3 separate regions of the Homo sapiens genome follow, and all the other regions are linked to region 3. Evidence: fine-mapped expression QTL. A gene starts in region 3. Each other region holds a variant in brackets. All regions are shown on one strand. Distances are from middle to middle. Region 1 has its middle 26 kb from the start of GPR35. Region 2 overlaps CAPN10 (calpain 10). Region 3 holds the start of GPR35 (G protein-coupled receptor 35).

Region 1 (10,373 bases), 26 kb before region 3:
AGTGCACACTGGCATGAAAGCTTCTGTTCCAGCTCTTTTACAGCACTCTGTGTATTTGCATGTACCACTGGGCAAGCAAAGCCCAGCCCAGAGTCAGTGTCTGTTCCTTTCAGGACCTATTTGTAGGCTTCTGGGGCTACAGAATCAATTCTACTTGCCAGCTATGTGCAGGGCCTCCCCCTTACCCCCCTCTGCTTCCAGGTAAATCTGCCCTGCAGCCATCTGCAGTCTCTGTCTCTGTATCAGCAGATAGTTGCATCTCATGGCTCCGAGGGTGTGTTGAGGGGGAGGACATGTTTAGGCGCAGCCCTTCCCTGCGCCGCTGCAGCCTCCACATCCACGGCTTCCATGGGCCCTTGTGGCCATCCCAAGTGAATGCACCAGGACTCCCATTTGCCAGTTCCGATCACCTTCTGATCCTGGAAGGGGTTCTTCTGATGGATATTGTCATGTTCTACTTTAATGCACCCCTGAAACTCCCACGGTGATTTTCAAGGGGCCCTTTCTTTAATAGACTAGTTTTCCACTGGCTATCTGCAATCACATGGCCATGTCACCGGCCACCCCTTATGAGTCAGTAAAAACCCAAACAGGAAAACCACATGCAAGTCAGCCCACTGAGCTAGTTTGACTTTTCCTTCTTCAATCAGAGAATCATGCCTGTAATCTCAGCACTTTGGGAGGCAGAGGAGGAAGAATCACTTGAGCTCAGGAGTTTGAGACCAACCTGGGCAACATAGCCAGACCCCATCTCTAAAAAAAAATTTTAAAACTTAGCCAGGTGTGGTGGCGGGTGCCTGTAGTCCCAGCTACTAGGGAGGCTGAGGCAGGAGGATCACTCAAGCCTGGGAGTCTGAGGCTGCAATGAGCAGTGATCACACCACTGCACTCCAGCATGGGTGACAGAGCAAGACCCTGTCTCAAAACACAAACAAAAAAAACAAAACAAAACAGAGGGACAGCCTTCCAAACAGGATGCTCCCCATTCTGCCTGAACCTGCTGTCCATAAACCAAGCAGCTTCCTGCTGATCCGTTGGGCACTGTTTTCATGGTGACAGCATCTGGCAGCTCCTCAGAGGATTCCAACGTCCGTCCTCGGGGAAAAGAGGCTCTGCTCATGGGGTGATGAGCTCCTCCTACCTTCCCCCAGGAGCATGTACCTGTACCCGAATACATAAATTAAATAAAATTTCCATTTTATTCCGGAATTCTTTTGGGCACTGACCTCTCCATGGGAGTGTTTCTCTGGCAATGCTTAAGACATTCTGGGTATTTCAGGTTCTGGGGTTATTTTATGTCCTTCAGTCATAGGAACAGTCTTAATCAAAGCTCAGTAACCCGCAAATTGTCTCTCAAACAGAAATTTCCAGTCCAAAATCGCACTTCTCACTGCTGGATGGTGCTCACAGGCTTGACTGTGAGTCCTGGTCTGCCTCACACAGGGCTGGACCATACAGAGAATGTGTGCCTGCACTCCTGCTTCTAACAGGGCATTCATTCAAGTGGTAAGCCCTTTTTGTCCACCAGCTGTTTAATACTGTTTCAAATTAATGACCTCTGTGGGCTTAGACAACGTTATTGGCTCCATTTAGCATGCCCAGCCAATATTGGCTGAAAGGTAGATTTACCTGTTGATATGGTTGATATGGTTTGACTGTGTCCCCACCCAAATCTCATCTTGAATTGTAACTCCCACAATTCCCACATGACATGGGAGGAACCTGGTGGGAGGTGATTGAATGATGACAGCAGGTCTTTCTATGATAGTGAATGAGTCTCACGAGATCTGATGGTTTTAAAAATGGGAGTTTCCCTGCACAAGCTCTGTCTTTGCCTGCTGCCAACCACGTAAAACATGACTTGCTCCTCCTTGCCTTCTGCCAGGATTGTGAGGCTTCCCCAGCCATGTGGAACTGTAAGTCCATTAAACCTCTCTTTCTTTTGTAAATTGCCCAGTCTCAGGTAGGTCTTCATCAGCAGTGTAAGAATGGACTAATACACCTGTCTTCTGTTTTACATGTGACCTAAGGGAAGCATCTGCCAGCCAGATGCAGTATCTACCCCCATGACACATTCAGGTGCAGCAGGTGCAACCACATCACATAAAATCTGCTCAAACATTCCGATATTCATCGGAACTTTCACCTTCATCCCATCAACCTTTGCTTCCTGCACCCTCCCACCCCAGCTGTAGCTTCTACAGAGACTTCACCAACAGGTTTGGAATCACAGTAGGAGAACAGCCTGTTGCTGTGTATTTATCTCGAAGCAAAAACACCATGATGACCAGTGTTTGATCCCCACATACCAAGGTGTTCTGCAGTAGGGTCTGTAGACATTGCCTGCAGCAGAGAGAACCCTTCAAAAAGACGTCTATCTAACCTGCTCAGTGGACACACGTCTTGGCAAGAATGTCCGAAGATATGACCAGCTGCACACGTTCTATCACACAAGCTTGCTAGATAAAGGATACTTTCTGGCCTGATGTGAGTGACTCACACCTGTAATCCCAGCACTTTCAGAGGCTGAGGCAGGCGGATCACTTGAGGTCAGGAGTTTGAGACCAGCCCGGCCAACATGGTGAAACCCCATGTCTACTAAAAATACAAAAATTAGCCAGGTGTGGTGGCACATGCCTGTAATCCTAGCTACTTGGGAGGCTGAGGCAAAAGAATCACTTGAACCCAGAAGGCAGAGGTTGCAGTGAGCTGAGATTGCACCACTGCACTCCAGCCTGGGTGACAGAGGGAGATTCCATCTCAAAAAAAAAAAAAAAGATGCTTTCTGGAGGGCAAGTGGCTCACAGCCCCTTGAGACGTGGCTTCTGTTCATAAGTCCCTATTTTTTTTTTTTTAAGATGGAGTCTCGCTCTGTCGCCCGGGCTGGAGTGCAGTGGCGCAACCTCGGCTCACTGCAAGCTCCACCTCCTGGGTTCACGCCATTCTCCTGCCTCAGCCTCCCGAGCAGCCAGGACTACAGGTGCCTGCCACCACACCTGGTTAATTTTTTGTACTTTTAGTAGAGACAGGGTTTCACGTGTTAGCCAGGATGGTCTCGATCTCCTGACCTGGTGATCCACCTGCCTCGGCCTCCCGAAGTGCTGGGATTACAGGCGTGAGCCACATAAGTCCCTATTCTATATTTCTTTCTGAGAAGCTGTATTTGTCAGCTTCTTTCTTCGGCCTCTCAGCTCCTGGGGCCTTTGCGGGTAGGTTTGCACTGACCTGCTCACCATGGAGCAATCTCAGTGCATGGGGCTCTCGTGTTGAGGAGTCCCAGAAACATTTCTTCTCCATCCCCTGAGCATTTTACCCACTCATGGGTGTATAGCATTGGGTCCCCAGCCAGGGGTCAGGCCAAAGGATGCCTGACCCTCTCATCAATCAAGCCCTTATCTTGATTGGATTGCAGGAGCATCACTCTAGGTGACTGGAGGCCAACTTGCTCATGGTCACCTTTGCCTTCTAATGTTTTCTATTTCTCCAAACTGGATGAACATAGGTTTAGGCCCTTTAGTTTGGGGCACACAGGAGCTCCCAGCAGTTCCAGTTTCTGAGAGTGCTGCCGTAAGAGTGTTGTTTTAACCCCATTAATGTCTGCTTTGCTCTGCCCATGTCTGTCTGTCTTTCTTTCTTTCTTTCTTTCTTTCTTTTTTTTTTTTGATGGAGTTTTGCTCTTGTCACCCAGGCTGGTGTGCAATGGCGTGATCTCAGCTCACTGCAACCTCCGCCTCCTGGATTCAAGTGATACTTGTGCCTCAGCCTCCCGAGTAGCTGGGATTACAGGCTCCCACCGCCACACCTGGATAATTTTTGTATTTTTAGTAGAGACGGAGTTTCACCATGTTGGTCGGGCGGGTCACGAACTCCTGATCTGGGATTAGAGGCGTGAGCCTCCGCGCCCAGGCTTATTATTATTATTTTAATTAGAGATGAGGTCTTGCTATGTAACCAGGCTGGTCTCAAACTCCTGGCCTCAAGCGGTCCTCCCACCTCAGCCTCCCAAAGTGCTGGGATTACAGGCATGAGCCACTGAGCCCGGCCATGTTCTTTCCATTTCTTAATAACTGTTGAAGGATGTTCACCTGCTGGGATGGGCTCCTTCACTCTCCCACCTGACTTTCCTCATTCTTTTGCAAAGCAGTCTGAATTTCCCCACAATCTGTTGTTTCCACACAACTTTTTCCTTTGGCCCTGAGGCCAGCGACTATAGCTTGGACCTCCCAGAACCCAGGATTGGTGCAATGTCAGGATTCAGCCCAACATCTTCCTTACCTTTCCCTCTAACCTTCCCATCGGTCATGGCCCCAAGGCAACCACCTCGGCCTCACTACCCATTGGCTCAGGCTCAGAACCTCTCTCTTGCTTTCATTTCAGCTTTTACAGAAACAATAACTCACAGTGGACCCATATGAAGTGCCACTAGTGATGCTGGAAGTGCCCAAGAAGCAGAGAAAAGTCATGACATTACAAGAAAAAAGTTGAATTGTTGGATACGTACTGAGGTCTGCAGGTGCGGTTGTGCCATTTCAGAGAGACAATTCATCTTGTAAACAGATGACAGAAAACTTAATGATATTGATAAATACAGTACAGTACTGTAAATGTATTTTCCCCTCTTTATGATTTTCTTAATAATAGTTTATTTTCTCTAGCTTACTTTATTGGAAGAATACAATTTATAATACCTATAACATACCAAATAAGTGTTAATTATTTATGTTATCAGTAAGGCTTCGGGTCAACAGCGGGCTGTTAGTAGTTAATAGCCTACTGTTGTGTCTCCGTGGTAATAGCCTATCATTGTAATTGTCAGAAATGAGAGTGGTCTTGAGGACTGTTTTCTCTGCCTTTACAGTTTGATAAAATTCCTGCAGCTGAAAGTGGAATTCACTAGAATGTCCCTGACTCGCTAAAAAATGTGGTATGGAAAAAGGAGCAATGAGAGGGCAGGGGATGAAGGATCTCTCTTTTACTTTCACCCTCTCTTAACTTTTGTTTTAGCTTTTAGGGAACACAATAACCAAGAGATTGCATATGTAGCTTGGTTTTTGTTACTTTGTATTTCCTTATTCATCCGGCCAGCCAGTTCCTGGGGATCTGGATCCATCATTTCCAAATTCTGTTGGAAACTTTTACCTCCTGCAACTGACCACAGCAGGGCTGCAGCTCCATACCACACGTGACCCATGGCCATCCAGAAATCAGAGGTCCTTCATCCCCTGCCCTCTCATTGATCCTTTTCCCAAACCACACGTTTCAGTGAGTCAGGGTCATTCTAGTGAATTTCACTTCCAATTCCAACTCCAACTCCAAGAGCTTTAGCCAAATGTGACGACAGAGAAAACAGTCCTCAAGAGCACTCTCACTTCTGACACCAATTACAAGTTCCAGGAACCCCACACCACCCTCAGGTTCTGTAATTTGATAGAAAGACTCATAAAACTCACCGAAAGCTGTTATAGGTGTGGTTACAGTTTATCACAGAAGAAGGACACAGTTTCAAGTCAGCCAAGGAAGCTGCACACAGGGCAGAATCCAGGAGAACAAGAGGCTTCTGTTGTCCTCTCCCTGTGTGGTCAGGCCAGTTTTGCTCTCCTGGCATGTACGTGTGGTGACACACCTGCAGCACGGCCAGCTGGGGAGGCTCACTTGATGCTCTCTGCCCAGAGTTTTTACTGGGGCTCCAATATGTAGGCATGGTTGATTGATTGGTTGACTGACTGATTGCTCACATAGTTGACCTTAGACTCCAGCCCTCAGGAGGTTGAGATGTGTGACCAAAAGCCCCTACCCTAAATCACATTGTCGGTCTTTCTGGTGGTTAGCCCCCACCTAAATACTATCAAGTGTGGCCCGCCACCACCCTAAATCACCTTGTTAGACTATCTGGCATTATCCAAGGCAAACAAAGGTAAACAAAGACACTCCTATCAGTCATGACATTCTAAGGGCTTAGACATGACCTTCCAGAAGCCAAGGGAAGGGCTAGACATCTTTTTGGATAAGGTTAAATTCTTTACCGCACAACGTGTGAGATAAAAATTATGGAAGAAGGAGTTTAGGATTCCCAGAGCATCCTCA[T/C]GTCCCTGATGCTGCATGGGGTGCATCTGCCAGAGGCCCCTCGCGGTGATGGAAGCCTGAGGAGCAGGAGCACCTGGCTGTGGCAGGTGAGGTCTGGGTTCCAGGGCCCAGGGTGGACCACACATCCCAGGCCCAGGAGCCAGAGCCTCACGTGGGCCCACCCCAGAGGCCAGGCACCAGAACTCAGGCTGTGGATCCTGTGTTCCCGGAACCACCTACAGTTTGGCTGCCTTGATCCAACCCTCCCACAGGAAAGGGTGCTGCTGACCCAGCTCCATCCTCTCCTCATCCCCTTGCCACATATTAGAGGGTCCTAAGGGTTCTGGGGTGCAGCTCCTAGGAAGAGGACTCTGTCCTTTTCCAGATTCCAGAAAGGGAGGAAGACACTGCTAGGAGTCTTCCCCTGTGAGGGTGCCCTGGCCCAGAATCTCCTCCACTGAAGAGCAGAGAAATGTGCCTACACCAAGAGCTGTCCACACAGCCTGACAGCAGAAGTGTCTCGCCTCCGAGTGACCCCACTTTCCGGTGAGCCCACTTCCAAAGACCCAGAACCACCGCAAGACGCTTTGCTCTCTACTAAAGCGATGCTGATTTTTTTCTCTGTTAGTTTTGTGGCTATTGAGTGATCATTCAGCGACTTAAGTGGAAATCTAACAGATTATAATTCTTCTATAATGTCCTGCAGGTTCCTCAAACATGACTCCCAGTGATTAAGGGCTTTCATGCCCTCCCACTAGTGGGAAGTGTAATTACATTATCTTGTTGTTGTTAATTAGTGTAATAAAGTTATCCAGAAACACAGCAAGAACTTTGTCTTCTAAAATAATTTCCATGTTTTTCTCTTTTATTTTTTTTTTTGTTATTATGAAATGGTTACACAATATCTCAAATGGAGACCTAATGTAATTTTTAGGGTAGTGTTTTATAAATGTACATTATGTAAATGTGAATCTTAGTAAACCATTTCCACATTATTTGATTTCCGAATACTGCAAGAAGCATATTTGTGTCATTGTTATTTAATAAGTCTCTTCATCCAGGAACCAGAGGTCCTTCATCCCCTGCCCTCTCATTGATCTTTTTCCCAAATCGCAAGTTTCAGTGAGTCAGAAACCCATTTTCCCTCTCTTGTGAGCTAATATTGGACCTCCTGTTGGAGCTAATATGTATCTTCCTCACATGGAGGAGAAGCAGCTGGGGGCCTCTTTCTCCTCCAGTTAATCTTCCTGGGATGTTCTGCTCGGAGGCCATCCTAATCTTAACACAACAGGGGCCTGGGGGCCCTAAGCAGAGTACGGGGGTCAAACCCGCCCCTCTTCAGCCTGTCCTGCCCTCTCCTTTGGTTCCACTGTGGTGGTGAGTTGATTACACAATTGGTCCTATTGAAGCTGGACGGAATTCTAGTTCTTGGGGTAGTGATTTCTACACGAAGCTCATTTGGAAGTGAATTTCCTGGGGGCACTGTTTCCTTTCCTTCTGTTCTGACAAGGGAAGGACATTATTTGGGTGTGGCCGCCTTTTAAGACCCTGCACCAGGGAAGTTCGGTGAGGGTTTTATAGGAGCCGTCTCACATCTGGGGAGATGCAGAAACACTGTTCTCTTCTATGGACCCAGAGATGAATATACAGTAGTTAGAAGACCAGTTATGTTCAACTCACTAAAACTTGATTTTTAGGAATGTTTGGGAAATACCGTTTCCACAAAACATCCTTCCCTCGTCCATCCATCGCGGGTGCTGGGGATTGCCTGTGGGAGACCTGGCCTCGGTGCTGCCTCCCTCCCTCCTTCAGTCCTGAATCCAGCTCTGGAGGAGAAGCAGCTGGGGCCGGGGAGGGGAGGTGACACCGTGCCCCGAAGGGTTAAAAAGACCGGTGACTGACAGCGGGGATTCCTGAGCTCACATGACGGCAGGTAAGAACAGCAGCAGCGTGCTGGAAATTCCCTCCTTGTGAGAATAAAACTGCCTGAGATCCTGGGGACCCAAAGGGCCGGCTGGAGTGGGCAGCAGCTTGCTGACATCACGGCCCAAATTTCCACCTCACGTTCATACTCACTGCCCCTGAATCAGCACATGTGACCCTGCAGAGGCACGAAGACACAGCTGCACATGCCCAGGGGACATTTCAGACCTCCCCTTTCCCTCCGGCAATCACCCGCTAATCCCAGAACCCACCCCAGACCTTTCCTAATGACGGCACTGCCTTAAGGCCAGGAAGGGGAGATGGATGTGAGCTGCATCCTGTCTCCTTGTTGCTGACCCACAGCAAAGCTTGTCTTTTCTTAAACCTGGTGCCACAGTACCGGCTTCTGAGTACCTCTGGAAGCCAGCCCCATTCACTGTCTTCCCCAGGCAAACCAGCTGCCCAGATTTGTTTCCCCAAAGTGCCTCTCCTCTCCCAGGCCGCTCACCCTATCATCTCTCAGGACCAGGGTGTCCCAGAGCATGCTTTAGGGGGTGCCTAGAGTTGGGACAGGCCACTGGACATCCAGCAGGGACCCTGAACTCAGTTGCGACCCCAAGGGCGTGGGGCCCGTTCTCCTCCAGTGAATCTCCCTGGGATGTTCTGCTGGGAGGCCCCCCTAACCTTAACACAACAGGTGCCCAGGGGCCCTGAGCAGAGTTCACAGGTCACACCTGCCCCTCTTCAGCCTGTCCTGCCCCAGGCAAAACAACAGTGACAAAGACTTTCCAGGATCCCTGACAACCCTCCCTGTTATGTGGCCTTCACCTCCCGCTTCCTATGTCTGGTCTTGGGTGTGGAAAGGACCTCAGAGGTTAAACTGTCACCCCCACCCCCTCTCTGGCCACCTCTGCCCCAAGCCACTGCCTGGCCACACCCGTGACAGCTGGAGCTGACAATTCTGCTTCCTTCAGGGCAGAGTGGGCACTGGCCTGGAGACTCCAGCGTGTGCAGGGGCACAGGCAGCCACGGCTCTCAAAGCTGCGTCAGTGGGGCTGCTGTGTGACTTGGACTCAGTCGCCAATGTCCACTTCCCTCCAGTCTTCAAGCGCTGTCAGAGCTTGTCACTAGCAGAGACGAAAGTCACATCACCTGTGGGGGCACAGGCCTGCTTCACAAGGACCCCAGATGGTCCTACAGGGATGCTTGCCTCTGAGGGGGCGGACACAGGGCTTTCACCGCCAGTAATTCAGAGCCCCTCTCTGCCTTCCAGTTCATCCCAACCCCCCTATTGCCCCATTCCAGGCCGACTTCCCCCCGAGATGCCAGAGCGCGTGTCCTGTTTGTTCCCGGCCCGGAGCTTCCTGCCCCTGCTGCGTTGCTGGCCTTGCCCAGGACCGTACGCGGAGCCTGCTGCCTGACGCTCAGCAGCTAATCCTTTCCACAACTCGAACGGCACTTAAATTGCCCTCCTATTTTCACCCCAGCCCTTAGAAAAGCTGGGCTTGGTCCTGTACGAACAAATTCCGCTACTGCGAAGCTTCCAGCTCCATCAACGAAGCCCAGCTCATGCAGAGGGGGTGTGACAGGAGGCCCCGCGCCGCCACCGGCAGCTGCTCTGCTCAGGGTACCAGCGGGCGGGGCATTGAGTGCGCCCAGGGCAGGGGCCCGAGCCTCCGCTCAGAGGACACTCGCTCGGGACCAGGGGCCGCTGGCTCCGAGAGGAACCACGCACCCCAAAGCCCCCCGTGCTCCTCATGGGCCACCTCTTCTGGGGGTGCTGCTTCTGCCCTGGAAGCCCAGCCACTCTCCCTCCTCCACTCCCTGGTCCGAGGTGTCAGGGACACGCGCAGGGCTCCGGCTGCCTCTTCCTGGAGCCAAGGGGGAGCCGGGGCTTTGGCCAAAGATTCTTCCCGCGCTTCCATGAACACTACAGCTCATGCAGGGCAGCCGGGAAGAGCCTCCAAGGCAGCCCCTCCTGGGTTGGGACACACAGAGCCGGGGTCTCAAACTACAACCAGATGGGCCACTGCCTATTTCTGTAAACAGGGTCACGGGAGCTCAGCCTGGCCTTTGTCCGTGTCATCCTCCGCTGTCTGCGGCTGCCTTCACCCTCCGCCGACAGCGTGGTCTCCTCGCTGAGGGGGCTGGAGACGTTCACCGACCGGCCCTTTACAGAAGAGGCTGCCGGCCGCCAACGCAGACCCCCGGCCTCGTGGCCCAGCAAGCACCAGGGCGGTTTTGTTTCTGGTGAGCGCCCACCCCGCGGGTGTCTGGTGAAAAGATTCCGTGTTGCATCCTGCTGCAAAGGAGCCAGCTGCACAGCTCCAGTCCAGCTATGGACAACCTTCTGCAGGAGACCTTGGGAAAAAGCAGAAGTTCGACAA
Region 2 (10,373 bases), 25 kb after region 3:
AGAGCCGAGAGCTCCGGAGACTCCCAGGTCAGCCTGCCTGCCAAAGCCTTTCCTCCAAAGCAGAAAAGACCCTTCCCCTGATGAAGCAGCCATGTGCAGGGCTTCACGTTGGGATCAAAAGGCCCCAAATTATCCCCAGGAATAAAATGATTCTTCCACTAGTTTCAAAAGGCAGCAAAACTAGCTTAAGTCTGGCAAAAATTAGGTGAAAACAAACAAACAAAAAAAGCAAAACCAAATGAAGACTCCAAGGGACAGCGAGCAAGGCGCAACCATGAAGAAAGCACGAGCCCAAAGTCCAGGTCTGAACACCTTGGCCCCAGCCTGGCCGGCCGCATCCTGTGTCCTGCCCGGGCAGCCCTGCCCCGACCAGCCCTCTCCCTGACTACCGCTCTCAGGACACAGGATCTCGACACTCACCCCAGAAGCTCTGCTGCCCCCAAGGCTGGCCCAAGCCTGGAGGACTGTGAAAGAGAAGACGGCAGTATCAGGACCGGGTGGGACACGGCTCCCACCAAGGAGTCACCAACTGCTGTGCCTGGAGCTGGAAGTGACTAAAGGAAGGAACCCAGGCAGGTGGTGTGGGACAAAGTCCACAGGAAAGGCCAGGAAGGAGGTGCTCTCATGGGACACACCCAGTCCTGCCCGTCCGGATCTGCCAGGGCCACCCTTTGTCCCTTCCCACCATGGTGGGGAGACGGTCTTCAGCCCACATGCCCCACTCTGCAGGCCCACAGTACCGCCAGGGACCCCACAGCCCTGGACCCCATGGAAAGGCCAGGCCCTGCCTTCAAGCATTCCGGAGAGTTCTGGGTGCCTTGCCAGGGCTGGCGTTGGGGAGACAGGATTTTATTTTTCAGGGTGGCTCTCATTTGCTAGGACACAGGCCACTGGGGACCCAGCATTTGTGTAAGAGATGGGCCCTTCTATAGATGACACATTTATGTCCCCGAAATTCACATACTGAAGTCCTCATCCCCAAGGTGAGGAATGAAAAGGTGGGGACCTCTGGTAGGTGATGAGGTCATGAAGGCAGAGGCGTCACGAATGGGATGAGTGCCCACATAAAACGGGCCCCAGGGAGTTCCTTTGCCCTTCCACCACATCAGGACACAGAGAGAAGGTGCTGTCTCTGGACCAGGAAGCAGGTCCTCACCAGGCACCAGGTCTTCCAGTGCCTCAATCTTGGACTTGCAGCCTCCAGAACAAAGAGCAACGCATTTCCACTGTTTACGAGCTGCCCAGGCTATGGTGCTTTGTTACAGCAGCCCAAAGGAACTCAAAGAGGGGCCCCACCAAGGAACTCAGGCAGGTGCAATGCCAGAAGAGCCAGTAAATCTTACAGGGGTGAGGAAACTCTTTGGCTTTCTCTATTTTCACGTAAACCAGCAGCCTTGCGGCAAAACGAGTGGTCAATAGGAGACTGAGTGACTGCTTGGCAGACAGCCAAGAGAGGCCGGAGAGGGCAGGAAGTGCTGGACAGTGGCTCCCAGCTCCAGAGCACCCCTAGAGGCCCCTGGGTGACACAGGCAGGGGAGCCTCACGGAGATCCAGGAGCAGGCATGCTGGAGGTGGTGCTGATTACAAGCTTGCTGATGGTCAGGCAGCGCTATCAGCTCTGAGGCTGAGAGGGGACTGAGGGTTTCTAGATGGCCTTCACCCTCAAGCAGAGCTGTGCGAGGAGCCGATCCAGGCTGGCTGCAGCCGCTGCAGAGTCCACCCCAGCAGACGCTGAGAGAGAAATGTCACTGGGTGGCCTGTGGCCACTGGCCCAGAAAGCAGGAAAAGTCCCACAGTGCCTCACCCCTGCTTGCCTTCCTTCCCTCCTGACACCCCAGGTGTCTCCCCCAAGCCGCCAGGCCAAGGGCGCTTCTCCCCGCAGGTGTTCCCAGGGTTATGGTCTACACAGCCACTGCTGAGAGGGTGCAGCCAGCAAGGAGTAAATACGCTGGCCAGCAGGTGTGAGCCGGGGCGGTAGCCCCAAGGGAAGGCCCATGGCTGGGCTGTGGGCAGCGTTCTTGGGGGCAGCCTTGTCCAGGGATGCCATGGGGTAGTCTGCCTGGGGAGGCTGAGCCAGGCAGGGCACAAAGACCAGGCGTTTCAGCCAGGTGGGGGCACCCCGGCCACCGACACTCCAGGCTTCTCCCTCACCAACCCCACCTCTTCCACCTTCCCTCCGAAATACCTTGCACCCAAATTCTATGTCTGCCTCTGCTTCTGGAGAATCCAACCCCCATTGGAGAAGAGAGTCACTAATTTGGGATTTGGAACTGGGTCACTCACGGCCCACGGGCAATGAGGACCCATCACTGGTCAGGGGAGATAGCTGGCGCCTGGCACAAGGTGGTCGTCCTGTCCAGTCCAGTTGTGAAACTGGTTCCAGTGTCCAGTGGGAAAGTTGGGGAAGGGGGTCTGCTGGGGGCCCCAGCTGCTGTTTGATGAATGAACAGACACGAGGGCCTCCAAGGAGGAAGCAAATAAGGCGCAGGTGGCTGAGGCCTCACTGAGGTGCCCTGGCTGGAGTTTGGAGAAGTTGGGCGGGGCGCAGCACTCCCAGCTCCTGATCAACACCTAGCCAAGGCCAAGGCCCCATCTGGAGAAACCAGGACCGTGGGCAGGGAGGAGGCAGTGCGTGGTGCCTGAAGGTTCCACTCTCCAGCCTCTTAGGAAGCTTCTGAGCCTGCACAGACGCGGCCCACCCCTCGCTCCACCCCCGTCAGGCCCTGGCCCCCCTTGGGTGCTAGGGCTCTGACCGAGTGAAGTGTCAGCAACATCCAGTGACCAGGGAGTGGGCTGCGGGCCCGGCCAGCTCGGGGCACAGGAGGGGGCTGCAGGCCCAGCCAGCTGGGGACGGGAGGCGGGAGCACTGGTAGGACTGGGTGCTGAGGCGCCTGATAGGGAAGCTGGAGACCTAACAGCAGTGTCCCGAGACACAGGTTTGACACCCTGGCAAGGCCCCTGGAGGTGGAGCAAACCTGGAGGTTCCTAGCGGCACAGGCAACACTTCCACTTTTGCTGGGCAGGGTAGAGATGCCACAACTGCTGTGGCTGGTGGAGGGTAGGCGTAGGCGTGTGTGGTGTGAGCTGCCAAGCACTGGTTCCCTGGGAAGACCAAGGTCACACCGCTCACCTGTGCCATGCTGGTTAATAGGGAGTGGCAGCTGTGCCGCAGGAGGCTGGCAGGAGTGGCGGCGGTGCCCCAGGAGCCTGGCGGGAGTGGCGGCGGTGCCCCAGGAGCCTGGAGGGAGTGGGCGGCGGTGCCCCAGGAGCCTGGCGGGAGTGGCCGGCGGTGCCCCAGGAGCCTGGCGGGAGTGGTGGCGGTGCCCCAGGAGCCTGGCGGGAGTGGCAGCGGTGCCACAGGAAGCTGGTGGCAGGAACCACCATCACTGGGTTTGGCTCGCCGGGGGCGGAGGGCATTAGACCTCTAAACAGCAGAGGCCAGGAGACAATCATGAACACGGCTGAAGGGCGCCAAGGGGCCTGCCTGCAGGGCTTACGGAATGGCAGCAGAGCAAGGCAGGGCTGCCAGCGAGGGCAGCGCTCAGGTGGAGCCGGCAGAGGGGTCCAGGAGGGCTGAGGGTGGTCACTCCGATAGAGCCCCAGTTGGGCCCACACTGCCCGAGTCGGTTTTCAGCCCAGGTATCTGCTGACTGAAGAGGTGGCCAGGCCTGCAAGATGAAGGACACTCCCCACATCAGCAAGTGTGCATGACAAGGACCTCCCCGGGGACTATGTGCACCAGGAAGAGAATATCCAGGCATCTGGGAGCCACTGAGCACACAGGCCCCAAGCTGATGCTGGTCCCCAAGAGTCACCAGGGCTCCATGACAGTGGGACACATCACAGGCAGTTAATAATGGAGTCCTGCCCAGGACCAGCTCACATGAGCCCACAGGGCCTACAGACCCACCCGGGGCCATGTCCCGGTCTCTGAGCCTGTGACTGGGATTGACACCTGGGGAGCGACCGATATCTCTGCTGCATCCTTGGGGTAGAGATGGCCGTGGGAAGGCCAAGAGGGACACTGGAAGGCCAAGACTGTCCCCTCCTGCCCGGGTCCCAGAGCAGCCGTGGCATGCGGAGAGAGGGTGGTGGCCCTGCTCTCTCCATTTGGTTCAGTGTGGCCCCGTGGGATGGGATTCCTGGAGGGCCACGTGGCGAGTGCACACACAGCCGAGGGGCAGCCCAGTGCAGCAGGTCCTGGAGGTCCAGGTACCCAGGGTTGGCCATCAACTGGACGAATACGCCACGGAAGATCAGAAGCTGCTCACATTTATATGAAATTTGTATGGAATGGACAAAGGCATTTGCTGTTTCTCCTGGGGCCTCTGCCGGAATACAGGACAGAGACCCCAGCTGGCCGGACACCCTGAAGAGCACCGCACTGATCCATGACCTTGGCAACAGGATGCTGATGGTGTCAGAGCAGGAGGCAGCCAGGGACAAACAACACCAGGCCGGGGCCTTCTGCACCAGAAATGTTTAGGTTGGCTGGGGGTTAGAGCCCTGCCAGACATCCCCTCCAACTGCATCTGGAACCTCCCATCAGAAGGAAGCACAAGGCCTCAGGGCTCTCCGCAGGCTTCGGAGGGAGCGTTTTCCACACCCAGGAACATGGTTCCAGCTGGTAGACCAAATGGCCAAAGCAGCCAGGTCGAGTGGAGCCAATCTACACTGGGGCGATGATGGGTGCCAACCATGGCCTCTAAAGTCACGGAACCCTGCGCTTTCGAGGCCTCCTCTCAGGCAGTAGCCTGGGACGCGGGAAGCAGGTCCTGGCTGTGGCCTTTGGGCAGAGCTGCCCAGCAGGAGGGTGTGGCCGCCACCTTCAGGGCCTGCCTCGGGGACAGTGGCTCCTGAGGGCCTGGGGGAAGGGATGCTCAACATAAGGGCCTGGCCAGCCCAGGTGGGGCCCTGCAGGCAGGGTTTGCTCCAGAACTCTTCACGGGGTCCCCACCAGTCTATCCTGACATGGACACAGTCCCTGCAACTGTCTTCCCTTCATAGGCACTGTGCCTGAGAAATACCTTGACCCCAACTGTCCCACCTCAACCTGCACCATCAGGCGCCCTGCACAGGACCTGTCCGCCCACAAACCCAGGGATCTAGGGCAGCTCCGACCCAGCTCAAGCCTCTGGCTTGGGCACTGCCCTGCGGGGTATTTCTTTGGTGAGCCGCCCCTCACTGTTCGCCCTGAGTTGCTGTACCCCAATAGGCGGCACCACTGGCTTCATCCGAAGTCAGCACAGAAGCCAGTGGATGAGGGAGATCTGTGGCAGGCTCTGCACGCAGGGAGA[T/C]GGAGCCCCATCCTGCTGCTCAAGAATCCGTGTCTGAAGATGCCGAGAACCCAGCTGCCACAGCCACTGCTGCTGGAGGGCCATTGAACCAGCAAGCAGAGGGGCTCACGGGGCAGGCTCCAGGGCCAGGGCAGCTTCCTGTGGGTGAGTCAGGAGGGTGGCTTGGCGTGGCCAGGGCGTGGAGAGGGGGACAGCGGCACAGGTCCCAGTGGGAACAGACACCAGGACTCCAGAGATGGTCGTGATCCGGCAGCAAGGCCCAAATCAGGCTCACTGGGTGCTATGGTTTGAATTTGTGTTCCTGCCCAAATCTCATGTCGAATTATAATCCCCAGTGTTGGAGGAGCCTGGTGGGAGATGATTGGATCATGGGAGCGGATATCCCCCTTGCTGTTTTGGTGATAGTGAGTTCTCCTAAGATCTGGTCATTTAAAAGTGCACAGCACCTCCCCTTCGCTCTCTTCCTCCTTCTCCAGACACCTGCAGACTGCCTGCTTTCCCTCCGCCATGATTCTAAGTTTCCTGAGGCCTCCCCAGCCATGCTTCCTGTACAGTCTTCGGAACTGAGGCAATCAAACCTCTTTTCTTTATAAATTACCAGTCTCAGAGTTGTTTACAGCAATGTGAAAAAGGACCAATACACGGGGTCTCCCCAGGCACAAAGGGACTCAGGAAGCGAATGGAATTTAAAAGGGATTAGAGCTGGGGTTGGCGGTCATGCCTGCAATCTTAGTGCTTTGGGAGACCAAGGCAGGAGGATCACTGAGGCCAGCCTAGGCAACCACATACTAAGACCCCTAAGCATTCAAAACTTGAAAAAACTAACCAGGCATGGAGTGTGCGCCTGTTTTCCTACCCACCTGGGAGGCTGAAGAGGGAGGATCACCTGAGCCCAGAAGGTCGAGGCTGCAGTGAGCTATGATCATGCCACTGCACTCCAGCCTGAGCAACAGAGCAAGACCCTGTCTCTAAAACAAAAGGGCTTAGTGACAGCCCTCCCCACCCATGTCTGGAACTGTCTTCTGCACCGTTCAGTGACACTACAGCTCTCATCACAGCATTTGGTGTGAGGGACGAGGGAGAGAGGCCTGGGGAAATAAACAATCCTAGGACACTGCGCAGGTGAACCCTGGCTGGAGGCAGAGGAGCCGTCCAGATCCAAGGCTCCCAGTCCATGTGAACCTGGGGTTCCTCCCTCTGCGCAACTCCGGTTCTAACACCCGTTTCCGAGATGTCCTTCTTCGCCACAGCCTTGGCAGTGCCTTCGCTGGCTCTCCCCACCCCTCACTCCCCAGTCTATCAGTCTGTGTCCCCCAAGACCAGGGCTTGACCTGCCCCGGCCAGCCTCAACCTCAGCCCCCTGGCCTGGGGCATGCCCTGGGCCCGCCCCTCCAAACTTCTCCCCTCCTCCCCACTCACCATCTCCCCCTGAAACCTGCCCTGCCTGGGTTGGCTCTGCCCACCTCCCAGGCCCCCAGCCCCTCCAGAGGCCATCCTCATCCTCACCATCTCGGCAGGCACCCAGCCCTCCCCACAGCCTGCTTGGCAAGAGCAGGCACAGCCTGGAACTACCTGGAGCAAGACTGATCTGCAAATCATCAGCGCTCATGTTTATTTATAAAGTTACATCCTAAAAGTGATTCGAACAATAAATAGTTATAAAGAAGATCTGCTGCCCTACCCTCTGGGTGTGAGGCCTCCATATGGAGTCAGCAGAGGATCTGGGAGGGATCCTGGGAAGCTCTGGGATCCTGGGGTCTCTGCCGTCTCAGTGGCGCAACAGAAGCCAGCAAGCTTCCCACCCTTCCTTGCAGCACCAGCTGGCCCCCAGGGCTGCGTCTCTCCTGACGGAGGCTTCCCGTGGACCCCTAGGCCGCAGCCTCCTGGCAGGGCTGGGAGGCAGGCCAAGACTCAGGACCAGCCCCCACAGTGCAAGGCTGGCCGGCCCAGCTGCTGGGAACCTGTCAGGCCCTCGGGCTCCAGTCACCTGAGCTGGCACAGGGGGCCACCCTGTTAGGTTTTCATCACTGCCATGATGGAGACCTGCAAAGACAGATGGGGGGCCCGGGCAGCGGTGGCACTCGCCCCTTCTCACACCCCACCCCGAGTGCAGCCAGGGAATGGGACGCAGCCTCAGCTCCCCCTGCCCTTCAAGGCACCGCCCGGGGCTCTCACAGGAAGAGTCAAGGGCACCTCACGTCCCAGGCAGAAACCACCTGCCTGAGGTTGCAGGTAGACCCTAGGCCACCAGGCAGCCCCAGGCAGGTGAGCCGGGCTGGCGGGGCTGCATACACACCTCTTGGAGGAACTGGCCCAGCATCTCCTGGCTGTGAATGGATGGCCTGTGGAGAGACACCAGATCAGCGCTCCCAGACTGCACTTGTCACACAAGTGGCTGTGTGCTCCTGGCCCACCTCCCACTAGACTCTCCTTCCAGGCTCAGACCAGCAAGGAAGGGTCCCCAGGTAGGCAGGACAGCCCTGGTCTGCCAGGACAGATAGGGGCTTGAGGGTGAGGGGCAGGCAGGAGACGTGGGGGGACAGGCGAGCACTAAGACTCCAGCACCCCAGCCTCCAGCTGGCCGCCCCCAAGTCCCAGAGCCCCACCTGTCAATCCTGGTTGCGATGGTCACTGTGAAGGCCCCCTCTGTGTCCGGCAGGTAGGTGGAGGGCACAACCTTGTAGGTGCCCGCAGGCAGGAGGCAGAGCCGGCTCACCTCCTGGGCGTAGCGATGTGGCACGCAGCTCAGCAGCGGCTCCTGCAGCAGCAGTGGGGGTGCGTCCTGGCTCCTTCCACCCTCTGGGACCTGAGGAAAGCGCAGGCTCAGACTGAGGGGGCCAGCCTTGGGGTAGGGAGCCCAGCCCAGGGCCATCTGCTCGGATGCCCTTGGCCCTCTTGAGTCACATACAGCCCCTTCTCTGAGGAGGGGCTGCCAGGCCTGGACACTGGACTCGCCTCCTCACCAAGGCCTGGCCACCCTTGCCAGAAGGTGCCGGCAGTGGGGCCCCCGCCTGGAGGCCTGTCACATCATCAGGGGCTTTAACACCTGTGACTGCCCAGCCCGCCCCAAGGGCTCCCACTGGCCCTGGCATGTGTTTTCCTCAGAGCTCTAGGGGACCTGAGCCGGTGGCCCAGGGCAAACAGCGAGGGTCCAAGGGTCCCCAGGCAGCCCACTGTGAACCGAGGGTTGCAGTGCCTTCCTCGTCAGGGCCCCTGCATTCCAGGGGACACATGTCTGCAGAGAATGAACCTTGGGACACAGTCATTCTGAGTCAGGGTAAGTGGACAAGGGGCTGCTGGCTGAGCTCAGTGACTGTGGACTTCCTCACACCCGAGGGGCTGCTGTGGCCAGCCAGCCTGGGCCTCCCCTCCTCTCACTCCTGAGTCCATCAGCCCCCTGCGTTCCCAAGCCAGGGCTCGACCCACCCCCGCTGGTCTCAACCTCGGCCTCCTGTCCTCTCCAAACTTCTCCCTTCCTCCCCACTCACCACCTCCTCTGGAAACCTGCCCTGCCTGGATCAGCCCTGCCCACCTCCCAGGCCCCCGGCCCTTCCAGAGGCCATCTTCGGCCTTGCCTCTGAGAGGTTGGAGATGGGAGAGGGCCCTGTGCGGGTTCTAGGCAGCGCCTCGAAGGGCAGGGGGAGCCCAAGTGACTGAGCCCAGAGCCCTCTGTTGGGACAATGGAGGCCAAGATGCAAATTCTCTGAGGGCCCCTTCTGCTCCCCCTCCCTCCCTGGGGCAAGGAGCTTGCCTGGAAGATATGGAAGCCGATGGGGTGGAACTCGGTGTCACTGGGCCGGCAGTGCTGATGCAGAGTGATGCGGACGCAGCGGGGGCCAGGGCCCTCGGGGACCGAGAAGGGGAAGCAGGGGTTGGTGGGGTATGAGGCAAAGTTCCTGCTGCCCCCCGCCGTCTGGCCGACTCTCCAAGAACCCCGTAGCTGCACGGTCCCCCACTCCCCCGCAGGCAGGGCTGCCCCGGGGGTGGTGTTCTTGGCCACTGCCCTGATGGCGCTGCCAAGAAGACAAACATGGGAGGGCGCTGGCAGCAGGTTCCCGGTGGCCTCAGTTCCCACATGGACACCTGCCAACCACAGAGGGAAAGTGCCCAAATCCTGCCTTGGAAGGGCCTGTGGCCTCGGAGAGCCAGCAGCACTGCGCGGTTCCTCTCACCTAAGGGAGACTCGCCCGGTAGAGAAGACTCGGAGCAGGAACTCCCCTGGCGCGTCCTTCAGGAAGGTGCTGGGGACAGCCAGGTAGTAGCCCGGTGAGAGCTCACAACGCAGGTGGACCTCCCGGTCGTATGCATGGCACGCGGTGCCAGCCACGGGGGGCATGGACAGGACCCTAGGCAGATTGACCCGCCGCTTCTCTACCTGTGAGCACGTGCAGGAGGCTCAGTGTGGAGGAGCGGCCGGGGTCAGACGCCCTGGCCTTGACCTCCCTGCTGCAAGCACAAGGGCCTCTGGAGTTGACAGATGAAAGCGCCAAGGCCTGTCAGCACCCTCCACCCTCTCTCAGGGACCAGCTAGAGATGCCCACCAATCCCGGGCTTCACTTGGCCCTGGCGCCAGTATCTGTCCCAGACACGAGCCTGCAAGTCCTCCTTGTAGCTGGGCCCACAAAGGCACCGTGGCCCAGGCAACCTGGGGGCTGCTGGACAGTGGGCCTTCCAGCAACTTCTTTTGCAAGAGGAAAGGAACATCATGTGGGCCACATCCATGAAGGGACAGGGAACAGTGTGGTGCCAAGTGTCACACCCTGTCAAGACACACAAGATGAAAACCCAGCCCCTGAGCGAGCAGCCGGCATATCCTCGACCCACACTCAGGCCCTTTGCCCTCAGGCGCCCCCATCTGTTCTTCCTGGAAACAACACACTTTGTGAACCAGTGGTTGAGCCTGGGACTGCCTGGGCCTCAGAGCAATCCCATGAGATCCGTGTCAGGACCCCGTCTTGCAGGGGAAGAGACTGAGGGAGGCAGGGAGAGGATGTGTGCCAGGTCACACAGCAAGCTGCAGAGCTGGGACTGGCCCTGACAGGTCCTCAGCCGCTGGCTCTACCTCCTTGCCTCAGA
Region 3 (9,058 bases):
CAGCGAGCCACCAGGGAGCCGATGACCAGCACCCAGAGGACCGCGCACACGGCCGCAGCCTGCCTGGGGGACCGCAGCCCGCGGGCACGCAGCGGGTGCCGCACGGCCACATAGCGGTCCACGGCGATGGCCGTGACCAGGCTGATGCTCATGTACCTGTTGGTCAGGTAGATGCCCTGGGAGAGCTGGCACAGCGGCGTGTCTGAGGTGTCTCGCAGGGAGTGCAGCACGAAGGGCAAGGTGCACAGCAGGCAGAGGTCGGCCACCGCCAGGTTGGTCATGTAGATGCGGGTCTCCGTCCACTGCTGCATGCGGCAGCAGAACACCCAGAGCGCCAGGCTGTTGAGCAGCAGGCCTAGCACCAGCAGGACGCCCAAGTAGGCGTAGAAGCCCAGCTTGATCGCTGGGGGCCAGGTGAGGTCGCTGGAGCCACAGGTGTTGTAGGTGCCATTCATGGTCCTGGGGCAGCACAGGGAGCCGGAGGTCAGCAGAGAGTGAGCAGGGGGAGCAAGGCACTGCCCCCACTCTGCCCACCTCTGGGCAGGGATGTGGGAGGAGGTGAGCCCCGACCCCACACCCACAAACACAAAACTCCTCAAAGAAAGCATGGGTGCCGTAAAGAACTCCAAGTCACCCTTGAGGTCTAACCCCTGGACAGATCCTCTTCCCATCTCCTGAGCTCTTCTCTCCTGGGATCTGCCTGCTGTCATGGGGCAGGAAAGGAGGCAGAAGGAGCTCCACGTTCCCCTCCAGTCCCCAGCCCAGCAAGCCCTACCCTCCAGAGCGCAAATCCTGGACAGGGAGCCCAAAGGGCCACCAGCCTTACCCAGCACACAGCTCTTAGCAGGGAGGGCTCAGAGGCAGCAGCACCTGTCAGCCCAAGGACGGGAAGACCAGGCTCCCGGACAAAGCCCAGGGTGGCCCCTCCACCCCTCCTGGCACCCGGCTGCAGGAGGCACCCACATTTGACTCCACACCTGCATCAGCCCTTCCCCACAGCAGAGTCCAGGACAGCTGGGACTCTGGCCTGCCCCTACCTCCCTGTGAGCCCACCCACCCAGTCCTGAGCTCTGGAGGTCCTGCCTGCATCAGCCTGAGGCCCCATCCCAGTCCCACACCTGGGATCAGGGATTCACCCCTTGAGCTCCCAGGGGCCAGAGCCTGTGACGGCAGCCCTGCCCCTTCAGGCCCAGTCGTGCTGCTCAGGGGCCGCCCAGGGGTGGAGCTGAGTATCCTCCTCTCCGTCACTATCAGGACCACCCACAAAGTCACCCCTCCACTGTCCACGCCAGCCTCTCGCTGTCCCCAACACCCTCCGCGACATAGCCCAGGAAGGCTGAGACCAGCCCCGGCTGGACCTGGGCAGGGTCTGGTGTCCAGGACACGGGCTAGAGTCATCCTGACTCGGCCACCCCTGCAGCTGGGCAAACTTGTTTCCTCATCATAAGGGGTGCTGGTGTCACACGCAGGCAGGTGTGAGACGGAGCTGCTGGTGAGCGCCCAGAGTCCAGGACTCACAGCCACACGTCCCACCACCTGGGTTACTCAGTGGGTCCAGGAAGAACCCGGAGGGGTGAGGGCGGGAGAAGCCTCTCCCCCAACCATCAGGCTGTCCTCTGGGGCATCCTGCAGTGGCTTCCTGCTGGGCTGGTATGGAAGGTGGGAAGGACTCAGCCCACAGCGAAGGGCCTTCCTCCTCCCTCTGCCTCCTCCCTCTGCCCAGAGGAGCACAAAAGGTCCCCCAAATCAGGAGGGGAGAGCGCCCAAACCCCGTGACTGCAGCTGCTGGGGACCATTAGTGCTGGGACGCATTTCCCCACGGTGGTCCCCGGGAACTCCAGGTCCCCAGTCCATGAGGGATGGAGGGCACAGGTTTCAGACAGAAACGAAACATTCTGCCCCCTGGCTTCATTCTGTCTCCTTAGATCCCACCTCTGGTGAAGTACAGCAGATATTTGCTGACTTCCAAGTTTCAGGAGCCCTTCCCCCGAGTGCAAAGTGCTGCACGCCCAGTGGTCTCTCTCCTCCCTTCTTGAGGGTCCTGCTTGCTTTCTCTCTGATTCATGAGCAACACTTCACCCTCGTTCCAGGGACTTTTGGAGGGACCCTGAGCCAGGCCAGGCTCCGAGGACATCCCCAGAACCCACTGGAACCAATCGCTGGGATCTTCCCTTCCTGTTGGGCCTATACTCCTGTGGCAGCCCCCGCTGGGGGCCAGGAGATCCCAGAACCTGCTCAGAATCTACACCTCAGAGGCACCTGAGCTGGGCAGGCACTGTGCGTTGGGGAGGGCTCCGTGCGACTGGCCTCCTACTCTCCCCACCTGAGTACTTGAATCCACCAGAAGTCCAGGGCCAGCCTTGGGCGGTGTGCAGACCTGGAGGGGGAGGGGGTCTGCACAGCTAGAGGGCGATTCTTTTGCTGCCCCACCTTGAGTAGAGGCAGCCTGGGACCCTGCCTCGTGGGAGGTGAGGACCCGAGGGCTCGTGTGCCTAGACCCCTTCCCATTGCCCCAGCTTCCCCCATCGCTCCCCATGGCTGCCAAGGGGCTCTCAGGTCACACATACCCAGGGCTGCAACTTTCATACTAGCCTCGGTGTGGCCCAGTATTTTGTGGGGGAATGTTTAACTGCAGGCAGGCACGGTGGCTCATGCCTGTAATCCCAACACTTTGGGAGGCTGAGACAGGAGGATGACTTGAGGCCAGAAGTTTAAGAACAACCTGGGCATCACAGGGAGACCCCGTCTCTACAAAAAAAAAAAAAAAAAAAAAAAAAAAGACAGAAAATTAGCTGGGCTGGTGATGCGTGCTACTCGGGAGGCTGAGGCAGGAAGACGGCTTGAGCCCAGGAGGTTGAGGCTGAAGTGAGCTATGATCCCACCACTGCACTCCAGCCTTAGGAGACAGAGTGAAACCCCATCTCTAAGAAGAAGAAAAAAACTCTAACTACAACATTTAAATTTTCCTGTTTATAATAAAACAAACACTGAACTATTAGGGAGAAAAATGCAAATGTTGCAAGAGTTTCGAGGTGCACGTAGGCTTCGAAGAAGTGCCCTGTTCATGGGTCCTTGTCTCGCCCGTGGAGTGCCTCCCAGAAAAGTTCAGGAAATCAAGGCCCAGGCTTTAGCCCAGATGGCATGGGGCCCCTGGGAGCTAACATGGCCAGCACAGATGCCCACCTACTGCCCCAGTCCCGCACAGGAATCTGTGTCCAGGCCGTGGACCGTAGCTGGCCTCCCGCCTCAGCTCCTCAGGCCTGTCTTCCTCGACAGACACCAGCACCATCAGCCTCAGGGAGCTCCCGCTGCCGGGGACCGTGGGGATGGGGCCCTTCCACTTCCTGCCCAGGAGGCTTTGGGGATTGGAGCCAGCAGCACGCCTCTGAGGCCCCGCTTCCCCTTCTGATGACAAGGTCACCCTCGGCTTCTGCACACAAAAGCAGAAAAGTGCCCTTTGATTCTGCACTGAGTGATCCAGGAGAGAAACCTGGCCATAGACGGGCGATCCAGCCACACCAGAGCCCCTCCCCAGCCCTTCCCCCTGTCTGGACCCGGGACCCGCCCAGACCCCAGAGTGCCTGGCTGGCCTGGGATTGAGACCACAGGCCCCAACCACTGCTGAAGACGTGGGGGCACGCAGTGAGGTGCAGATCCCTGTGGCCCAGGCACCAGAGTCCCCCGTACCTGTGACCCCACTGGGCCTGGGCCCCACACAGCACACCACACCCCAGGACCCAGGATGGGGCTGTGAGTGACACGAGTTCACCAAAGTAGCTGCTCACCTCGGGGCCACAGCACGGGGTATTCTTCATTCTTGTTTTTAAATGTCACATCCCACACTCCAACAAGCTGCTACCCAGACACAGGCTCCAAGTCTTCATCAGCCTCAGCCACCCCTGAGACCCCAACAGCCTCAGCCCACCTGAGACCCCAACACAGCCTCACCTCACTGAGACTCCCCATCACAGCCTCACCCCACTCTGAGACCCCATCACAGCCTCACCCCACTCTGAGACCCCATCAGAGCCTCACCCCACTCTGAGACCCCGTCACAGCCTCACCCCACTCTGAGACCCCGTCACAGCCTCACCCCGCTCTGAGACCCCATCACAGCCTCACCCCGCTCTGAGACCCCCATCACAGCCTCACCCCACTCTGAGACCCCCATCACAGCCTCACCCCACTCTGAGACCCCGTCACAGCCTCACCCCGCTCTGAGACCCCATCACAGCCTCACCCCGCTCTGAGACCCCCATCACAGCCTCACCCCGCTCTGAGACCCCCATCACAGCCTCACCCCGCTCTGAGACCCCGTCACAGCCTCACCCCACTCTGAGACCCCCATCACAGCCTCACCCCACTCTGAGACCCCATCACAGCCTCACCCCACTCTGAGACCCCATCACAGCCTCACCCTGCTCTGAGAACCCATCACAGCCTCACCCTGCTCTGAGAACCCATCACAGCCTCACCCCACTCTGAGACCCCATCAGAGCCTCACCCCACTCTGAGACCCCCATCACAGCCTCACCCCACTCTGAGACACCCATCACAGCCTCACCCCACTCTGAGACACCCATCACAGCCTCACCCCACTCTGAGACCCCATCACAGCCTCACCCTGCTCTGAGACCCCCATCACAGCCTCACCCCGCTCTGAGACCCTGTCACAGCCTCACCTCGCTCTGAGAACCCCCGTCACAGCCTCACCCCACTCTGAGACCCCATCATAGCCTCACCCTGCTCTGAGACCCCATCACAGCCTCACCCCACTCTGAGACCCCCACCATGCCCCTGCCCCGCTGGGAGGCCCCTAGGGCAGTGGGCGGCACTGACCTGCAGGCAGCTTTGGCCTCCCGGGTGGAGTGTGTGACCCCCGCTGCCAAAGCCTGCACAGTGGCTGTCTGAGAAGGGCTGGGGGAAGTGAAGCTGGGGTGAGCCACCCCTCAGGGCTGGTCCCTGACTCTGCCCCTCCTTAAGGTGGGGGGGCGGGCGGCTGACTGACGGCAGCAGGTCAGGGGTAACAGGAGTTCCCCACTGCTCCTGCACCAGCCCCAGCTAGAGGGCGTGGGGGATTTCTGGGAGGGAAGTGGGGTGCCGGCTGCCTGTGCTGACACCTCTGAAGAGCCAGCATCCTTGCTGAGGGCACACATTTGTTCTGGAAACAGCGTGAGAGACAGACAGCAAAACCAGAGACGCTCCAGCCCCGCCCACGGAGCCTTCCTCCTCCCCAGCCCACTTCTGCCCTGTCATCTCGGAAACCTTCCCAGGGCCCAGCCCTCCCAGGGTCTGCGGTCAGCTCGCCCTCCCCAGCGCCTCATGCCCAGCCCCAAGACAGGGTGCAGCACGCACACTCATCCTGGTTCATGCAGACACGCTCCGTGGGCGCCTTCCAATACACACACACACGCTGGCACACATGCACACACACATGCACACGCCAATGCACACAGGTGAGAGGCACACGCAGGCAGGCTGGCTCCTCCCCTGCTTCCCCCCGACTTGGCCACCGGCCCCTCCTCCAAGCCCACCCCCTCAGAAGCCTACCCAGACCACCCCTATCTGGTCTAGAATATTCTCCCTGGCCCCCAACTCCTCAGCGGACATCTTCCTTCTGAGCTCATGGTGGGGGAGCCCGTAGGCCCAGGCTGCGCCCCCATGGTGCAGAGCACCCCCTTCCTGGGCCCTGTCCACCCTGAGGGCAGGAGCCTCGTCTCCTCAACGTGGGCCCCACAGCCCCTGACCACAGCCTCTCCCTCCTCAACGGCTGGGATAGGCTGGGGAGAGCTTCAGTTTCACCCCTCCCCACTTTACAGCGGTGGAAACGGACGCCCAGGGAAGGGAAGCGCTTGGCCCAGCGTCACACAGGTGGTGGCAGGTCTGAGACCAGTGCCTGGGCCTCCTGAGCCAGACCAGGGCTCTCTACCCAGAGGCACGTGAGGAAGCCCTGGCTGGGCATTGGTCCTTCTCTGCTGTCATCCCGGGCCTGGTTCCTGTCCCTTTCTTCCTGCTTCCTCCTGCTGTCCTTCCTGCCCTTCCTCCTGCTTCCCCGGCTGTCCCTCCAGGCCCAGTCCCCAGTGTGCGCCCTTGGGTTCCCTGCCCAGTCTCCATGGGCCATGATGTTCATTGGAGAGGGGCCTCATCCTCGGGCAGGAGGCTCAGATTTGGGATTTCATCCATCCCTCACTCTGGCCACAGGGTCTGGCCTCTGGGGTCAGCAGAAGGCACGGCACCTGATCAGTCCAAGCCCGGCCGCCGTCAAGCAGGGACTGGAGGTGCAGGGCACGGCATCTCCCAGGAGTGCTCCTTCCACCTCTGGCAGATCAGATGGTGCCCCAAGCAGGCCTACCCAGCCCACCAGAGCCAGGGCCCTGCAGAGCTCCCCCACCCCCCCCACCACCAGGCCAGCCATGAACTCCACCGTGCCCCCTCTGCTGGGCATCACTCCTCCCCAGCAGTGGCCTGGGGCACCCCGTCCCCACCAGGCCTGGCCTCCCTGACGTGGCCTGGCACCTGTGCTCCTCACACACTGGAAGGGAAGCCCCACTGGGCAGGGCCACATGGTCCCAGCGGATTCTTCTGGGCTGTGTGGACTTGGGGAAGAAACTGGACATTTAGAGACTCTGACTGTCTCTGGGAAGGGCCCCTTGCCACCAGGTTCCACCTGTGTACAGGAAACGCTGTCCCCAGCCCACCCCCTACCTCTCTCCATCTGCCCCTTGGCTGTCTCCGCAGGCACTTCAGGGCAGTCCCACCCAGCCTGGAGCCTGGGCCCTCGTGCTCTGCCCCCTCCCACTCAGGCAGGCCTTGCCCGGGCCCCTCCAGAGCGCTGTTTCTCTCCTAGCTCCCCGCTCACCCCCAGGGCCCCTCTCTCCCCAAAGCTGCACCCTCACGACCTGTTTGCACCCTCACGACCTGTTTGCGCCCTCACGACCTGTTTGCACCCTCACGACCTGTTTGCGCCCTCACGACCTGTTTGCGCCCTCACGATCTGTTTGCGCCCTCACGACCTGTTTGCGCCCTCACGACCTGTTTGCGCCCTCACGACCTGTTTGCGCCCTCACGACCTGTTTGCGCCCTCACGACCTGTTTGCGCCCTCATGACCTGTTTCCAGCCCTTCACCCTGTTTGATTTTATCACAGAACTTATTTTTTAAGTAACCCTTTCTGCGCACTGGGCTTGTGCTTGTGGGACTCTATCTGCTTCCTGCCCTGTCGGGGCCCTGGCACAGAGCCCGGCCTCTGTGAAGCTCGACGACCGCTCACCCACAGCGACTCCGGCCGCGGGGCTGCGAGTGCCGGGGACATATCAGGTGCTCAGTCGTCGTCGGCGCCCGGCTCAGGCACGGTCGCCTGGGGTCCTCTGCTGCTGCTCAGGCCCTTCTTCGAGGACACCCGGAGTCCCCAGGTTCGAGAGGCCAGATGGCAGGTTTCCAGTCCAGGCCAGGCCTGTTCTCTCCCTGCTGGGCAGCTTCAGACCACCTGGCCCTCTGCGGAGAACTGGCAGCCAGGGTCCTGCTGTGGGCACGGGGGCACTGCCCGGGGCCCTCCGCCCCCAGCCTCTGCTCCTGGGCAGCTTCCTCTCCGAGGCTGCCCCCTCACCCCCAAGGTTAGCCCCCTGCAGCAGCGCCAGCCCCTCCCACTTCACCCCGCTGGGCTGTATGTGTGACGCGAGGAGCTCCGAACAGGATTCCTTCCTGCCCCTCCTCCTGCTTCTCCAGCTAGAGCTGCCGGACGCCACCCCTGCAGCCCTATCTAGGGGAGCCTCTGCAGCAAGCTTGTCCAACACTCGGGCTGCGGGCTTTGAATGTGGCCCAACACAAATTTGTAAACTTTCTTAAAACATTATGAGATTTACGCAGAGACCTTTTTTTGCTCATCAGCTATCGTGAGTGTTAGTGTATTTCATGTTTGGCCCAAGGCAATTCTTCTTATTCCAATGCGGCCCGGGGAAGCCAAAAGATTGGACAGCCCTGCTTTGAAGGGAAGTCTGTGAGGCGATGTCAGGGAAGCAGGAGCCTGGGAGAGCCAGAGAAAAGCCGTTTACGTTCAGCTCCACCTTGAGACCAATGAGGCACATACCTGCCAGCCACAGCCCATGGTCATACGATGTTTACAGCTAAAGCAGCAGCCAGTGACGCCTGCGTGGACACACTTCTATGACAGCAAAGTGTCCAAGTGCCCTGGTATCCAGAACAATATATGCTTTCCAGACAACTACCCTTGGCCGGACGCGGTGGCTCAGGCCTCTAATCCCAGCACTTTGGGAGGCCAAGGTGGGAGGTTGGCTTGAGCCCAGAAGTTTGAGACCAGCCTGGGCAACATAGCAAGACCCCATCTTTACAAAAAGTAAAAAAAAAAAAAATCAGCCACGCATGGGGGTGCATGCCTGTAATCCCAGCTACTCAGGAGGCTAAGGCGGGAGGAGCACCTGAGCCTGGGAGGCAGAGATTGCAATGAGCTGAGATCGTGCTACTGCACTCCAGCCTGGTTGCAACAGAGCAAGACCCCGTGACAGACAGTTTTCTTTAAATCAATAGAATAATACATGTTAGGCACAGTTTAGCTTAGTCTTTACACAGACGAGACCCCTGTATGAGAAAAAGTTAAAGCTGGGGTGTTCCCCCTCTTGCTTTCTGACGACACCCTGCTCTGTAATGGAGCAACTTTCAATAAACCCTCTCTTCTCACCACATTCTGACTTGCCTCCACTTCCTTCCTGAGTGAGACCCACGAAGCATGTCTTGAGGTCTGAATCGAGACTCCTTTTGCAGTGAAGCTGCCATCCTAAATGAGTCGCTTGGATCCTCATGCGTCCTTTGCATAGTTTTGGTTTACTAAAACAACACATTGGCTGGGTGCAGTGGCTCACATCTGTAATCCCAGCACTTTGAGAGGCCGAGGCAGGGGGATCACGAGGTCAGGAGTTCAAGACCAGCCTGGCCGACATGGTGAAACCCCATCTCTACTAAAAATACAAAAATTAGCTGGGCGTGGTGGCGCGTGCCTGTAGTCCCAGCTACTCGGGAAGCTGAGACAAGAGAATTGCTTGAAC

What was found.
Region 1: its variant is fine-mapped to the expression of GPR35 in whole blood (INTERVAL, PIP 0.99).
Region 2: its variant is fine-mapped to the expression of GPR35 in gastroesophageal junction (GTEx, PIP above 0.99).

What each region holds. Positions count from the first base shown.
Region 1 is chr2:240,646,603-240,656,975 of GRCh38, reverse strand. No RefSeq gene overlaps it. Among named protein-coding and RNA genes, the nearest start is that of GPR35, 26 kb to the right of the region's middle. RefSeq lists a silencer at 596-645. The variant T/C (reference allele first, on the strand shown) is at 6,085.
Region 2 is chr2:240,595,618-240,605,990 of GRCh38, reverse strand. CAPN10 (calpain 10) reads right to left here. Exons shown (of 12, transcript NM_023083.4): 8 at 9,470-9,672; 9 at 9,049-9,310; 10 at 7,904-8,103; 11 at 7,594-7,639; 12 at 6,887-7,340. The coding sequence ends at 7,311. It also overlaps a transcript of GPR35 not described here. Among named protein-coding and RNA genes, the nearest start is that of CAPN10, 14 kb to the right of the region's middle. The variant T/C (reference allele first, on the strand shown) is at 5,298.
Region 3 is chr2:240,621,350-240,630,407 of GRCh38, reverse strand. It overlaps GPR35 (G protein-coupled receptor 35), which reads right to left and starts at 4,928. Exons shown (of 2, transcript NM_005301.5): 1 at 4,840-4,928; 2 at 1-459. The coding sequence starts at 455. RefSeq lists a silencer at 2-296 and enhancers at 4,468-4,974, 5,582-5,731, 8,635-8,774, 8,795-8,854.